Homo sapiens: one gene and its partner. The protein of the gene in region 1 purifies or fractionates together with the protein of each later gene. This does not show direct contact. Each region holds a gene or a part of one and is shown on either strand. Other genes may lie near its edges. The genes, in order: FAM9C and MYO18A.

Region 1 (6,940 bases):
ATTGTGTATTAAGTTATTTCTACCCTTTTGATGGTCTTATTAAATCAGATACTTTTTTGTGCTTTACATAATGAGTTGTGACAGTATTTCACGGAAACATGTCCTTTGAATTGTAGGACATTTTATAAATGTAGAAATTAAAGTCTGTGGCTGGGCACGGTTGCTCACACCTGTAATCCCAGCACTTTGGGAGGCCGAGGTGGGTGGATCACGAGGTCAGGAGATCAAGACCATCCTGGCTAACACGGTGAAACCCCGTCTCCACTAAAAATATAAAAATTAGCCGGGCGTGGTGGCGGGCGCCTGTAGTCCCAGCTACTCGGGAGGCTAAGGCAGGAGAATGGCGTGAACCCGGGAGGCGGAGGCTGCAGTGAGCCAAGATCGTGCCACAGCACTCCAGCCTGGGTGACAGAGCGAGACTCTGTCTCAAAAAAAAAAAAAAAGAAATTAAAGTCTGTGTTTGTAACCCTTTCTGCACACTTAAAAAATAGAAACTTTTAATTATTTGCTTTTTTTCATTATCTGTCAATTAAGTGATTTGCTGTTATACCAACTGAAATTGGAATACTAATACCTGAAAGGTTTTACATAAAGTAAGTAAATCTTGCTTTTTGAAATGATCTTTGCATTTTACATTTTAAATGTCCTTCTGATATTGCTGAACCATCAAGTCCCATATTGATTTTAATATATGCAAAGAAACTACTTTTCAACATGAACATTTAATGCATATTCATTTACTATCTAGCTGACATTAAAGAGCATCTTGCTGCAAAGAGAAAAAGGATTGAAAAGATTGCAAAAGCTTGCAGCGAAATAAAGAACAGAATTAAAAATGTTTTGAGAACAACACAACTAAAAAGGTATGATTGTTGGCTTTTTTGAATAATGATATTTATATCATTTCTTTGTATTCATTGGTGCAAATAATTTCCAGAACTATCCTGTACATATTGGTGTCTCTAGGGAACAACATATTTTACTTGATTGTTCCCTAAACAGGTAAGTTTCTTTAGTTTTATAACCTCAATTTAACAGAATTGAGAGATATTACCTAGAAGCCAATGAAGATGACCTCTTTTTGCCTTCCAGATAAAAAGTCTTCCTGTAAAATTAATGTTTATCCATTTCTAGAAATACGGTAGGTGAATATAAGATAAATGTCTTCAACGTTTAGTCTGTAGATTCTTAACAATATTCAATTATGTAGAAAGGGATAACCTTGTGTTGTAAATAAGTTATTTATTTTAGTTAAATTGTTTTCACTATTCCTTTTAGATCATTGTCGTGCCAAAGTGGAGAAATAGTTAAGTGAAGTATTTCTTTCGGGAAATCTTACGGGATGAATGGCTATGATATTCTTGCACCTCCTTATGAGAACGCATATGTTATTTAGTAAGAAGAAATGAAAAGTAAACTGCTCTTGGAGAAAAAGATTGTTTCTGGGAAATTTATAGTGCAGTAAACCCTCCTTTGTCTTCAGCAGGTAAAGAATGTAAGATAGCTGCTCTAGTAGTCAGTTAGGAAGGGATCCTTTCAGAATGACAGTAACTCATTTCACCTTTTCCCAAAAAGAAGATTTCAGCTGCTATTACTCCCTTGCTACTTTATAGTACAAACTATGTCAAGTCAGTTTTGGTTTGAATAGGATTAATTTTTCATCCCTCTATGACGTATGACCTTGTTACTTATTATGTGTTACAGGCAGAAACGTGATTATAGAATTTCTCTGAAGTTGCCGAATGTCCTTGAAGAGTTCATCACAGATGAGCAGAAAGATGAGGAAGGAGATGGAGAAAAGGAAGAACAAATTGTTGGTATCAGGCTTAGCTTTATGATTAACCTATTGTATCAATGTCTCAGGTAGTAATAGTTCATGCAGAAATCCAGCAAAGAAGGAAGAGAGCATGAGCCCAGAGAGGGTCGCCCATTAGTGGACTCATGGACTAGGGGAATATAATTGCCATGCAGCATTAGGGGTCCAACTGAAGTCAGCATCATAGCGATGAAGAAGTTAAAGTGAACTCAGTTGGCATATTTGTGCAAGAGCAGCTGTAGGGTTGGAATTTCCTGGGTTGGGGTGTAGCCGAGCATGTTGATAGAGGGAGAGTTGGACAGGGCATAGAGGCAGGGATGGGGTTATGATGACTGGCTGTGGAATTTCAGCTGGGGCTGAGTTACCTGAGCACATGGGGGTGGGGCATTGGGCAGTGAAAAGTGCTCCATTCAATAGGCGTCAGGTCCCTACAGACTCCTGAGCTGTAGTACTGAAGTGAGTGACCTACAGTGGCAGGAAGGTAGTGGCTGTATGTTGGGAAGATGGAGAAACAGATGAGTGCAGTGGTCAAGGGCTGCGACTCTGGAGCCCCACTGCTTGGGATCCAATTCCAGTTTGACCATTGCTAGTTCAGGAACCATGGGCATATTATTTATCTCTGTGCTAAAGTTACTTTATATACGAAAGGAGACATGGTGAGGGTACCTATTTCAGAGTTGTTTGGAGGATTAAAGGGTTCCTGTGTAACAGGTTTATTTAAATTTTTCAGGATGCGATCTGACCCATGGTTGCTGTTTATCATTGCTATTATTAATATTATGTAGATACTGCAGTCACTGGGAATGACAAAATTTAGGGGATGACTGTGAGTGCCACGTAGAGGAGAGGAGAACACTATTGTTGGAGATTAGGTCAAGGTGCAGAAAGGCAATCATTAATGGAAGGTTTATCTATGTACATATTGAAATGACCAAGATTTAACAGGTGTTTAAAATCTTAGTAAGAAAGAATGTTTCTTAGTTAATTTCTGTATAGATCTTACCTATCTGTGGTCAACAAATTATAGGAAGGGTCATCAAATACTCTTCATTTGAAATCAAGAATTAAGACGTATGTGTTGAATATGTATAAGAAAGAAAATTCTTTACTCCATGACTGATGAAAAAGGTTATTGTTTTAGCACATGAGTGGTGAACACAATTGTTTCAAATTGGTCATAAACGTTGTCTAAAAGAAAGTGTTCAGAAGTATTGATTTAAAGAGTATTTCTTTAATGCAGAATGTTTTATAAGTATTAAAATTTACCCAATTTTAATCACTTTTTTGTTTTGTGCCTCTAGAAAATATTTCAAGAGCAACAAAAGAGGTGGCAACAAGATGGGAAAGGAACTGAAAGAGATTGAGCCACCACACGAGCAATTCACAAAGGTCTGTTCTATTTGGTAACACAATACGTTCTTATAAAATACAACACATGCATAAAAATAGAAGACAATCTGCTTGTTTCTGAATGTATGGAAAGACATTTTGGTTATACATTTTAAATTACTTACCATTTTCACTTTGAATGTGTTGTTCCAGATTTAACATAAGTAGTAAATAACATAAAATAACATAAAACAGTATTTTTAGGATTCATGAATAGTTTTGTAGGAGTTATTTAGAACAGGAAAAGGTAAATTGGAAATTTTACCTAGAAATATACATCTTGTGTATAAAAATTGATACCTTATGAACACATTAATGAAGACTTTATTTTCAGTTTTTAGGAGATCAGCGACAAATCTTTAGTGGAAGGCAGAAAGTCCATAAGTCCTTTCTGGATGTCTTTTTTACTTGTGTTGTTTCAAGAGTTTTAGTTAAATAGGAAGTAGGCAAATGTAACTACTGAGTATCTCTTTTGTTTTCTGCTGTAATGTAGGAGTGTTTTATGGCATATTCACTTTCAAAATTATTAGTGACTAGTAATGGTTTTACATGACAATTTGTAATCATAAGAGATGGTTCAGATGTATAACAGAATGGGAAAGCCAGCAGATTATTAACATGTTGTGAATTGTGAATTATCTGCTGTCGTACAGCACATTAGCAAATTGTCATCGGACAATGACCGCTTCTTCATGTAGATGTATATTATTTAGGAAGCAATGGAATTCCCTTCTGGGAGGTAAGATATTCTTTTTAATAACCTTGTGGAAAGACATGTTCATATGTCACTCCTCTACACTAACTGAGATGTGTTAAATAAACTGGGAAAAGAGTTTGAAAATAGAATTTTCAAGCAACTCAAAGATTATCTATACACAAAACGGTTATTTATATAGAAGTCACAAGTAGAGAACATGTTGCTATAATGTTCCCCAGAAACCATTTATTAATTGGTATGAACATGAGACTAGAAAAGTTTTCCTGTCAATGTTAATGCTACATGTTACCACTTAGGGTAGGAACTTCGGTATCATCTTGGACTCTTCTGAGTCCATTATCTTTCACATACAGTTTTCATGAGGCAAGTTTTACTCTGCAATGGTCCTTAAATTTCTTTTTTTTAAATTGCCACTGAGGCAACCCTAGTTCAAGAACTCATTCTTCCTTGCTTGTACTATTAAACTCTTTTCTGAGTTCTCTCTTCTCTTCTGAGCCACCCTTCATTGATCAGAAATACTATCTTCCTAAAACTCTTCCCTTCCTAAAATGCTTCTAGCCCTTCACTCTTCCCAGCCTATCAGTGGTATCCACATGTCAGTTCTTAGATATTCAGAGACTCTCCCCTTTACATGACCCCCTCTTAGGCTTGTTTTACTGCCTTCTGTCTTTCTTCCCGCCTCTCCAGGTTGACAGCCTTCTCTGAACGACCTCTCCATTACTCTCATGCTTTGCTCATGCTCTTCCCTCACAATGCTTTTAAAGTCCTTTTTTTTTTTTGATCGATTGAAATCTTTTGCCAACTAAGTGGACATCAGTCTCCATTTTTGGCTACATGTCCGAGTGAGTTGCTCTTCCACAGCAGTTACATAAGTTTTGTATTATTTTTTTTATTCGTGCATATTTGCTCATGTCACAGGAATATGGAAGAGATTGTGTATTCATTTTTTACATCTTCCTCAGCATTAACATACCACTTTTTAGGGAGTAGGAACTGTTGAACTATTTGTTGAGAGAATAGTATATATTTCAAACATAGTTATGTTTTCTCTAACTTGATGAGGTCATGTCACAGACCATTTTATCCCTTCAGTGGAAACCATGTTATGTCGACTATTAGTGATAACAAATGGGTCACTATCTGGTGAAAAAATATGGTATTTCATGATCTAAGACTACCAGTCTTTTTCTGTTTTTGCTCCATCTTGACCATAACATATTCATCAAACCATTTTCTTCAAGCAAAGTACATGACTGTTGGACCTGCTATAATAATATTTCACTAAAATCTGGCATTAAAAATTTTAAGTATTTGGAGCTCCATGTACTGATTACAGTTTTTAAATTTGAAATAAATGACCAGCATCCTTTGAATATTAAAAGCTGTTTCCTTTTGACATTTAATTTACTCTCTTTAAAATGTGAGTTGTAAAGTGATGGTTTGTCAGTGAACTAGACTTTTTGTTTTAGAGTGTGAGGACTTGGAAGAGTATAATGAAAGCCCTCTTTTTGGTGAAGAGAGTCAACTTAAAAAATAAATTGCCATGTTCCAAAATAATATTGTGGTAATTGTAAGTAGTGCATATTTTATCTTAAAAACTCAGGATTGATGTAAGCACTGGAATATTTTATTTGTAGAAATGTGTATCGCAATTACTTAAATTTATTTTTTTGAAACAGCTGCAGCAAGAGTTGGCACTTATTCAGATGTATCTTCAACCTCTGTTATTCTGGTGACTGACAAAAGAACTTGAACCTATGTTATATGATACATGCATAACTTGAGCTACACTAAACCACATGACAGTGTTTAGTTAATTCTTGTATAAATTAGTATATCTCTTCTATTATTAGTCTGTTTGTTAAATGCCAGACCACGTTTCTATGATCTGTTGAATGAACCCTAGACAGTTCTGTGAGAAAGCAGCAATTGCACAGTTACATACACAGTCAATTAAATTTTAACATTAAAGATAATTTAGTTTTAGGTTTGGCCTCTGTGGATCTGTATCAGTTCCAAAATGTGGAAAGCACGGGCATGGAAAAGTACATTTTTCTCTAATAAAAGAAGACAAACCCTTATTTTATCTGTGCATTCTTTGTATTTACTCATTAAGTTAAAGAAGCAATTCCAATGAAAGCAAGACTTCAAAAAATAGATAAACTCTGTGGCCTTTCAAAATTATTAAAAGTACCTTAACATCTGTGTTCTTGAAAAAATTAAACTACTATAAATGATTGAGACAACTGAGCAAGATATATTAATATCAGTGCTGAGCCACCGGCTTCTGGGTATGTCATTTCCACAGACATCAAATTGCCATTTGGTTTGTTTTGGTCCACCATTCAGTGATATCTCCCCTTAACATTGATTCAAAGTATTTTATTAACATTTATGTATGCTTACAATTATTTCACATCTGTGGCAAGGTAAATTATGTAGGGTGCTTTGTTTTTCGAGTTTAGTATTTGTGGAGTATGTGGAAGTTTAAGTATACATGCATCTAAAAACTTAAGTGATGAATTCTCCTACCTTTCCTTTTGTAATGTGCAGTTGTTACATGTAACAACATACAAAATGTTCATTTGGAAACACTTTATTTAGTAAATATGAAATTCAGAATATATTTGGAGTAAGTCAGTTAAATGTATTCTTTTGCTGAGTTTCTGAAATTCCATTCATGAATTGTTCAAAACACAATACTCCCATTGGGAGGAGAGGAGCGACTTCCTCTCATTTTTCCTTGTGCTTTTTATTTTAATTGGCCCCTATATACCACTCTTGTTTTTCTAGGTTTTCCAAGTTTAAGAAAAAAAGAAAAACAAGTTCATTCAGATTCTGTTTTTCTGCCTGCAATCACTTATGCAGGAATAAGTGAGTCCTTATGGGGAGCATTTAATTCCTAAAGTTTGCATTTTCATAAAGGATTTTCCTTTTACCCAAAGCATGTGTTGGTGTATAAGTCTAACTACTACTTCAAGTTTCTAAGAAGATCCTCATTTGAGATCTGCAGAGGT
Region 2 (8,047 bases), on another chromosome or scaffold:
GATGGCACCATTGCACTCCAGCTTGGGCAACAAGAGTGAAACTCTTCCTAAAAAAAAAAAAAAAAAAGAGTTGTTAATATACCTATTCATTTCACTGCCATGGTGTAGGGAAAAGAATGGGCTTTGGAGCCTTAGGGACCTCAGTTTGAATCCTGACTCTGCTACTCTTAGGCTGGGTACAAGTCACAAAGCTGTCTGTGCTTCATTTCCACAACTATGAGTTAGGAAAGATAACCAAGCTAACAGCTATAGAATGCTTACCATGTACTGGGCATTGTTCTTTTTATATATTAAATCATGTAATTTTTAAAAATTAATAAATACAAGGCCGGGCAAAATGGCTCACGCCTGTAATTCCAGCACTTTGGGAGGCCAAGGTGGGTGGATTACCTGAGGCCAGGAGTTTGAGACCAGCCTGGCCAACATGATGAAACCCCATCTCTACTAAAAATACAAAAATTAGCCTGGTGTGGCGGCACATGCCTGCAATCCCAGCTACTTGGGAGGCTGAGGCAGGAGAATCACTTGAACCTGGGAGGCAGAGGTTCCAGTGAGCTGAGATCACAGCACTGCACTCCAGCCTGGGTGGCAGACTGAGATCCTGTCTCAAAATAATAATAATAAATATTATTTTAAAAATCAGTTTAAGTTCACAGCCAAATTGAGCATAAAGTACAGAGATTTCCCATATGCCCCCTGCCCCGACACATGCACAGCCTTCCCCACGATCACACTCTTCACCAGAGTTGTACATTTGTTACAATCGATGAACCTACATTGACACATCAGTATCCCCCAAAGTCCATGGTTTACATTAGGATTCACTCTTGGTGTTGTACATTTTGTGGGTTTTGACAAACACATAATGACATGTATTCAACAGTGCGGTATCACACAGAAGAGTTTCACTGCCCTAAAAATCCTCTGTGCTTTGCATTTTCATCCCTCCCTCAACCTTAATCCATGGCACCACTAACCTTTTTATTGTCTCCATAGTTTTGCCTTTTGCAGAATGCCATATAGTTGGAATCATACAACATGTAGCCTTTTCAGATCAGCTTCTTTCACTTATTAATATACATTTAAGTTTCCTCCATGTCTTTTCATGGCTTGATAGCTCATTTCTTTTTTAGTGCCACATAATATGCCATTGTCTAGATATACCATAGGTTATTTGTCCATTTACCTACTGAAGTTCATCTTGGTTGCTTCCAAGTTTTGGCAATTATGAATAAAGTTGCTACAAACATCATGTGCAGGATTTTGTGTGGACATAAGTTTTCAATTCATTTGGATAAATACCAAGGAGTGGGATTGTTGGATTGTATGGTAAGAATATGTTTCATTTTCTAAGAAACCACCAAACTGTCTTTCAAAGTGGCTATACCATTTTGCTACCAGCAGAGAATGGGAGTTCCTGTTGCTCTACATTCTTGCTAGCATTTGGAGTTGTTGGCATTTCGGATTTTGGCCAAAATCCAAATTTAGGTAAATAAAGTAGTTTTACCTCATGGTCATCTTAATTTGCTATTCTCTTTTATTTTTTATTTATTATTATTTTTTGAGACGGAGTCTTGCTCTGTCACCCAGGCTGGAGTGCAGTGGTGCAATCTCGGCTCACTGCACCCTCTGCCTCCTGGGTTCAAGTGAATCTCCTGCCTCAGCCTCCTGAGTAGCTGGGACTACAGGTGCATGCCACCACACCAGGCTAATTTTTGTTCTTTTAGTAGAGACAGGGTTTCACCATGTAGGCCAGGATGGTCTGGATCTCTTGACCTCCTGATCCACCTGCCTCGGCCTCCCAAAGTGCTGGGATTACAGGCGTGAGCCACTGCACCTGGCTTTAATTTGCTATTCTCTAGTGACATACAATGTTGAGTATCTTTTCTTTTGCTTACTACTATCTGTATATCTTCTTTGGTAAGGTGTCTGATCAGGTTTTTTACCCATTTCTAAATTGGGTGGTTTTCTTATTGTTGAGTTTTTAAAACTCTTTGCATATTTTGGATAACAGTCCTTTATCAGATGTCTTTTGCATATTTTTAGTAGAGACGGGGTTTCACCATGTTAGCCAGGATGGTCTCGAGCTCCTGATCTCATGACACACCTGCCTCAGCCTCCCAAAGTGCTGGGATTACAGGCGTGAGCCACCGCACCTGGCTTTAATTTGCTATTCTCTAATGATATACAGTGTTGAATATCTTTTCTTTTGCTTACTGCTATCTGTATATCTTCTTTGGTAAGGTGTCTGATCAGGTTTTTTGCCCATTTCTAAATTGGGTGGTTCATTTTCTTATTGTTGAGTTTTTAAAACTCTGCGTATTTTGGATAACAATCCTTTATCAGATGTCTTTTGCATATATTTTATCCCAGTTGTGGCTTGTCTTCTCATTCTCTTGACAGTCTTTTGCAGAGCAGACATTTTTAATTTTAATGAAGCCCAGCTTATCAGCTCTTTCTTTTATGGTGCCTTTGGTGTTGTATCTAAAGAGTCATTGTGATACTCAAGGTCATCTAGGTTTTCTCCTATGTTATCCTCTAGGAGACAGTTTTATAGTTTTGTGTTTTACATTTAGGTATATAATCTATTCTGAGTTAATTTTTGTGAAGGGTATAAAGTCTGTGTCTAGACCCCCCCCTTTTTTTTTTTTTGCATGTGGATGTCCAGTTTGTTGAAAAGCCCCATGTGTTGAAAAGACTAAGCTTATATAATTTTCAAAACAAATTTTGAGGGAGGGAGTCACTGTTATTATCCCAATTTTTTGGATGAGCAAAGTGAAGCACAGAGAGGTGATTTATAAAAAATCACCCAGAGTAACACAGCTAGTACTTTACAGAACTGAGATTTTGAATCCAGGCAATCCAGCTCCAGAGTCCATGCACTCAACCCCTATCTATAATAATAATGTCTCCCTCATAGGTTCATTGTGAGGAGTAGAGATAGTGTCTAGTATATAATAGGTACTCAGGAAACACTAATGATAGTCGTTGTCCTACTTAGCCTGCAAGGTTCCGCTCAAATGTCATGTTTTTGGGGTTTTTTTTTTTTCTTTTTTGGAGACAGAGTCTTGCTCTGTCGCCCAGGCTGAAGTACAGTGGTGTAATCTCCGCTCACTGCAACCTCTGCTCCCCAGGTTCAAGAGATTCTCCTGCCTCAGCCTCCCAAGTAGCTGGGATTATAGACATGCACTACCACGCCTGGTTAATTTTTTGTATTTGTAGTAGTGATGGGGTTTCGCCATGTTGGCCAGGCTGGTCTTGAACGCTGGCCTCAAGTGATCTGCCCACCTCAGCCTCCCAAAGTGCTGGGATTACAGGCATAAGCCACCATGCCTGGCCTCAAATGTCATGTTTTTGAAGCTGCTCTTCTCACTCCTCAAGCCAAATAAGCCTCCCATCATAGCACCTATCTCATCATCCAAGTAATGCCAGCATGGTGAACCCTACTACTGTCACAGCTCAGGTCTACCTGTTCCCCATGTGATTTCCCTGGAGATATGCCATGTCTGATCTCCTTCTGTGTCACCCCAAGTGCCTGGGGCTGCACTTGGCACTTAGCAGGCAGTTTGTTAAATTGAATTTGAGTTGCATGTTATTCCAAAATGTGTATCCCGCCTGGGTCTATTCCTCAGGAACTCCCTAACTCTTACTCAACTCTCTGCTTTCTGAGCCTCCTTGCTCCAGCCTTCCCTGGTCTGTCAGGTTGGGCTGCCCTTGCCTGGAGAAGTTCCTGTTTGGGCTGTCTAGGGAGGTAGCAGCATTTGTCTGCTACACCCTTCTTCCTGCACCACCCCACTCAGTTTCTTCCACATTCTGGCACACCCCACTCCAGCATGGACACTGCCCAGGGAAGTGTCCCCATTTCTTTCTTTCTCCAAACTCTAGACATAGCACCTATCTTGGAGGCCTGGTATCTGGATGTCCCTTGGCCTCTCCCAGGAAGTATAAACTGTCTTCTTGGTGGGTACAGCAGCTCACTTGATATTTACAGCACACAGTGGACCCAGGGACAGACTGCATTCCAAAGAGCTTCTGAAAGTGTTAATCTTGGCATTGGTGAACTCCTTTAGGGAGTGAGTGGCACTTACAGCCATGGCTCCCGGGCCCTGGTACGCCTCTTGATCCACTCCATTTTGAGGCAGGGCTGTATCAGACCAAGCTATTGGGAGTCTGTTTTTACCTTGGGGAGTGCATTCTGGCAGTGCCATCTCGGACATGGCAGGCAGTACCTGGTCTGGACTGAGCCTGGGGCACCATCCAGCAGGGCCCTGTGTGTGCCTCTGCAGAGCCACCTTGGGAGGAGGCGGCCAGTAAGACTTAATTGCTTCCTTTAGACAGCACTACCTTGAACACAGCCTGCAGAGTTCGGTGCCTGCCTTGGACAGCCCCTCTTCTATACGTTCATCATGACCCTGGTGCCTGTCCTAGGCAGTGCCACTCAGCCCCTTTCGGACCCTTTTCGGACAGCCTCCAGTGCCCAGTGCAGACAGAAACTCCAGGCAGGGCCTCTCTCAGACACAGCGAGAGGGGCTTCGGAGTCCACAGCGGACGGAGGCTGCCAGGGCAGCGCCCGGCCCGCCTGGCCCACGTCTGGCGGCGCGCACTGGCGCTGCCAGGCAGGCCGGGCGTTTATCCCCACAGCCGCCAGCAGGGAGCTCCCTTTCGGCTCGGCCTGCGCGGTCGCTGGGGGCGGCGCTGAGCTGCGCCGCGCTGCGCTCTGCTCCATCCCTGACCGGGCCGAGGCTGCTGGATGCCGCGTCTCCGCTTCTGCTGCCTGCCGGGCGGGCTCCGGTGGCCGGTGAGTGCCGGTCGGCGGCGGCGGCCGCTCGGTGGCGGGCCCGGCTTGGTGGGGCGGCGGGGCGGGCTCCGGCCGGGAGGGAGGGCGGGCGGGCGGCGGGGCCCGCCGGCTCCTCCTCCTCCTCCCCCGTCCCCTGGAAGCAGCGGCCCGGACTCCCGGCTCCCGTCCCTGGCGGCGCCGTGGAGCTCGACGCCCGGGGGTGGGGGCCGATCGGGAGCGGCGGGGAAGGGGGAACCACCGGCCCTTCCAGCCAACCTGGGGGGCGCAGGGAGGCAGGACAGGGTGGCCTTCAGTGTGGGGGGATTTGGGGCTTGGAGGCGCCCAGGTGGCCCGGAGCTGCGGGGTGGGGGCTGCAGCCTCGAGGGTGGGGGGACTTCTCCTGCCCCCGTCCAGGCCCCACGATGGAGCGAGCGAGAGAGCGGGGCGCTGAGGAAGGCAGCGGGGAAGGGGAGCACCTCTACCGACCCTTTTATCCCTCCCAGCGGCCTTCACTCTTTCACTGCCGGGCAGACTGCGGGCTCCTCTCAAAGGAGCAGCTGCTAGACAGCTGGCAAAACAATGGAGACCCCGCTTCCCTGGGCCCCCTCCTCTTGGGACAGAAGATGAGAGGGTGAATGGTGGCAGGCTTTGGGGATTAGGGAGTGCAGGCTGTGCCCTGAGACTGAATGCTCACCTCACCTTTCCCTGCAGAGGGGTGGGGTGCGTGTGGGAAGGTCGGACAAGCTGCCCCAGGCCTCTGGAGAGACCGCCCCGACGCCCCGCCCTGCTAACCTGTCATGCCAGTTGTTTCGCCAATGGGAAGGGGAGGTGGTAGGGGTGGCTGCCCCCTCACCCTGCCCCTTGTTAGTGGGGGTGCGCTCCTTGGTCCCAAACCCGGCCAGGAGTGTGGGTCATGTTCCTGGGTGCGATAAGGCCCGCAGGGACAGGCCAGGCATTGGGGCTTTGTTTTGGGGGTGGAGATGGGGGAGTTGCCCTACTGCAAGGCACATGTGTCTTGCTGATTAGTTGGAAAGGTTGCGGCCAGAATGAGCTAGAGGTGGGGGGTGGGGGAGATGGGGAGGAAGACAGCCAGTTTGTTTTTGAGCGGGTATTCATTTTGCCTGACCACTTTGCCAATGGGGCATGTGTTTGGCGCTGGCCTCATAGTTTGTATTTGTGTGGGGAGGGCTGGGGGAATGCTTCCTGAGAGGGACTGTCCTGGCTAGGGCTTTCATTCCCTCAGATGGCCACCCCGAATTAAAGAATTGGATTCCCTCCCTGCTTCACCCTGCCAATGACTTGGGCTAGTTAGTGTGGGTTCGTCTTGTCTTTTGGAGCCCCTGGCGTGTCTGTGGCCGAGAAGGCCTCATCAGTGCCCCTGTGGCAAGTGAGCTCTGGGAAGTGTGTATGCACTGGGGTGTGCTGGAAGGGAGGGGAGGCCACCTGGGTGATTAAGAGCAAGATCACCTGAGCAGGACGGTGAGTACAGAGCCCATTGAATCAGCCGCCTTTCCCTTGTGCTTTGGAGCCCTTTTCTTGAGCAGGTTGGTGCCCTGTTGTTGTGGCAACAGGCCTGGCCTAATGTTCCCCACCCTTTTTAGTTCAGGGGCTACTTTCTATCTGGAGATATTGAAAGTTGCTCTCCTGAGGTCTCTGGCTTCCTGACAAGCCTCACTGGCTCTTTGTCCATGGCTTCCCACCTCCTCAGCTTCCTCTCTGTTTTTTTGTGATGAAGTCTTTCCAGGAAACATCCTCCTGGTTTCTGGATTTGACATGACGGGTTATATATAGCCTCGGGTGGAGGTGTGCTTGTCCATTTTGGGTTGAGGACATGGGGGTTGTGGCCTCAATTCCAGGAAAACCATGGCTTTGGGGGCAGCTATTGTGTTGAGGGATTAGGGGAATGAGAAGGGTTGTAGGTGGGGGTGGAGGGTGGGCATGGGAGGGGCCACAGGCTGGCGGTCACTTCCTTTGGGAGCTTTGAACTTTGAACAGTTGATGACCTGGTGCCTGGTAGCTCTGAGTGTCTAGTTTGTTTACTCTCTCCTGGCCTGGCCCAGGTGCCAGAGTGTGTGCCTGAGGGCTTCCTCCTGCGCCCCAGACTTTCCTCATGTGGGTTATGCCCTTCCTGACTCCCACCTGGTCTCTCAGCCTCACTCCTGGGCTGTCTGGGTAGCCAGCCAGTTCCCTGGAGGCCCCCTCACTGGCCCTGGTAGTGGCTATTCATTGAGGACTGCATGTGTCTTCAGAAACTGGGCCTGAAAACTCTGGGTCCCCCAGAGGCAGGTACCTAAAGGTGGACTGGGTGGGGCAGAACTGGGGCTCATGTGAAAGGGAGAATCCACCCTGCTGAGGTGGAGCTGGGAGTTGTTGGAACTCAGGAAGCCTTCATCTGGACTTGCTGTGTCACAGGTCTTCAGGGCAGCAGGGCTGTTCTTAATCCTTCAAACCAGAGGTCTCTCCTCAGCCAGATCCTCTCACCTGGGGTGGACGCCACAGGCAGGAGCCAGAGCATCCACGTGAGCTGGGTTTTGTTGGTGGCCTGGGGTCCCAGGCCTGAGTGTGGTGGGAAAACTGAGGGGCTCTGGCTGGTTGTAGTTTAAAGGTTTGGGGCAGTAGGAGGGCCCAGCCCACTGTCTGCTGTAATTGACAGGTTCCCACAGGACTTGGGATTGGTAGGGCAGCTTGATGGAGTTTAAGTTCTGCTTTGGGTCAGACCCCCGGGTGCTTTAAGATCTGCACACCCCACCCCATCACCATTTCTTCCCCCTAGCATTTTCCAAGGTGGCCTGAATTAGAGGAGTTGGGGAGGTGCCGAGGTAGGAGCTGGATTGGGAGGGGTGGTGAGCAGACCTGGTGAGCCTCCACTTCCCACCTTCACTTCCCTGCCCTTCTTTTGAGGTAGGAATTGCAGGGCTTGTAAAATGTCAATTTCCCTTGACATTTTAAACAGTTTAGAGTCAGGCAGCAGTTTTGGTTGTTAGACTGATGATTTTACAGGACCCAGGGCCCTTTCTGTCTGCCAAGTAGTTTATCATCACTTACAAGAGATTATTGTGATTATTCTCTAATATTCAGAGAGGTTGGATGATGGGCTGAAGGTCACACAGCAAGTCAGAGGCAGAGCGGGATTACAACCTGCAGTGTGTGGTTGAGCAGAATAGCTCTCCAGCAGAGGCTGAGGGCCAAATCTGAGCTGTCAGGCCCTTGAAGATAACTGTAGCTGAAATAGTGGAGGCTTAGAGAGGGGAGGGGACTTGCTCAAGGTCA

The links.
Region 2: the proteins of FAM9C (region 1) and MYO18A purify together in Homo sapiens (co-immunoprecipitation; 2 studies listed by BioGRID and IntAct, with this or other methods). This does not show direct contact.

What each region holds. Positions count from the first base shown.
Region 1 is NC_000023.11:13,034,681-13,041,620, reverse strand, and holds the end of FAM9C (protein FAM9C), read left to right. Parts: intron 1-748; coding exon 749-863; intron 864-1,704; coding exon 1,705-1,813; intron 1,814-3,117; coding exon 3,118-3,180; 3' UTR 3,181-3,205; exon of another isoform or gene 3,206-5,602; 3' UTR 5,603-6,004; downstream 6,005-6,940.
Region 2 is NC_000017.11:29,177,064-29,185,110, reverse strand, and holds the start of MYO18A (unconventional myosin-XVIIIa), read left to right. Parts: upstream 1-4,712; 5' UTR 4,713-4,798; intron 4,799-8,047.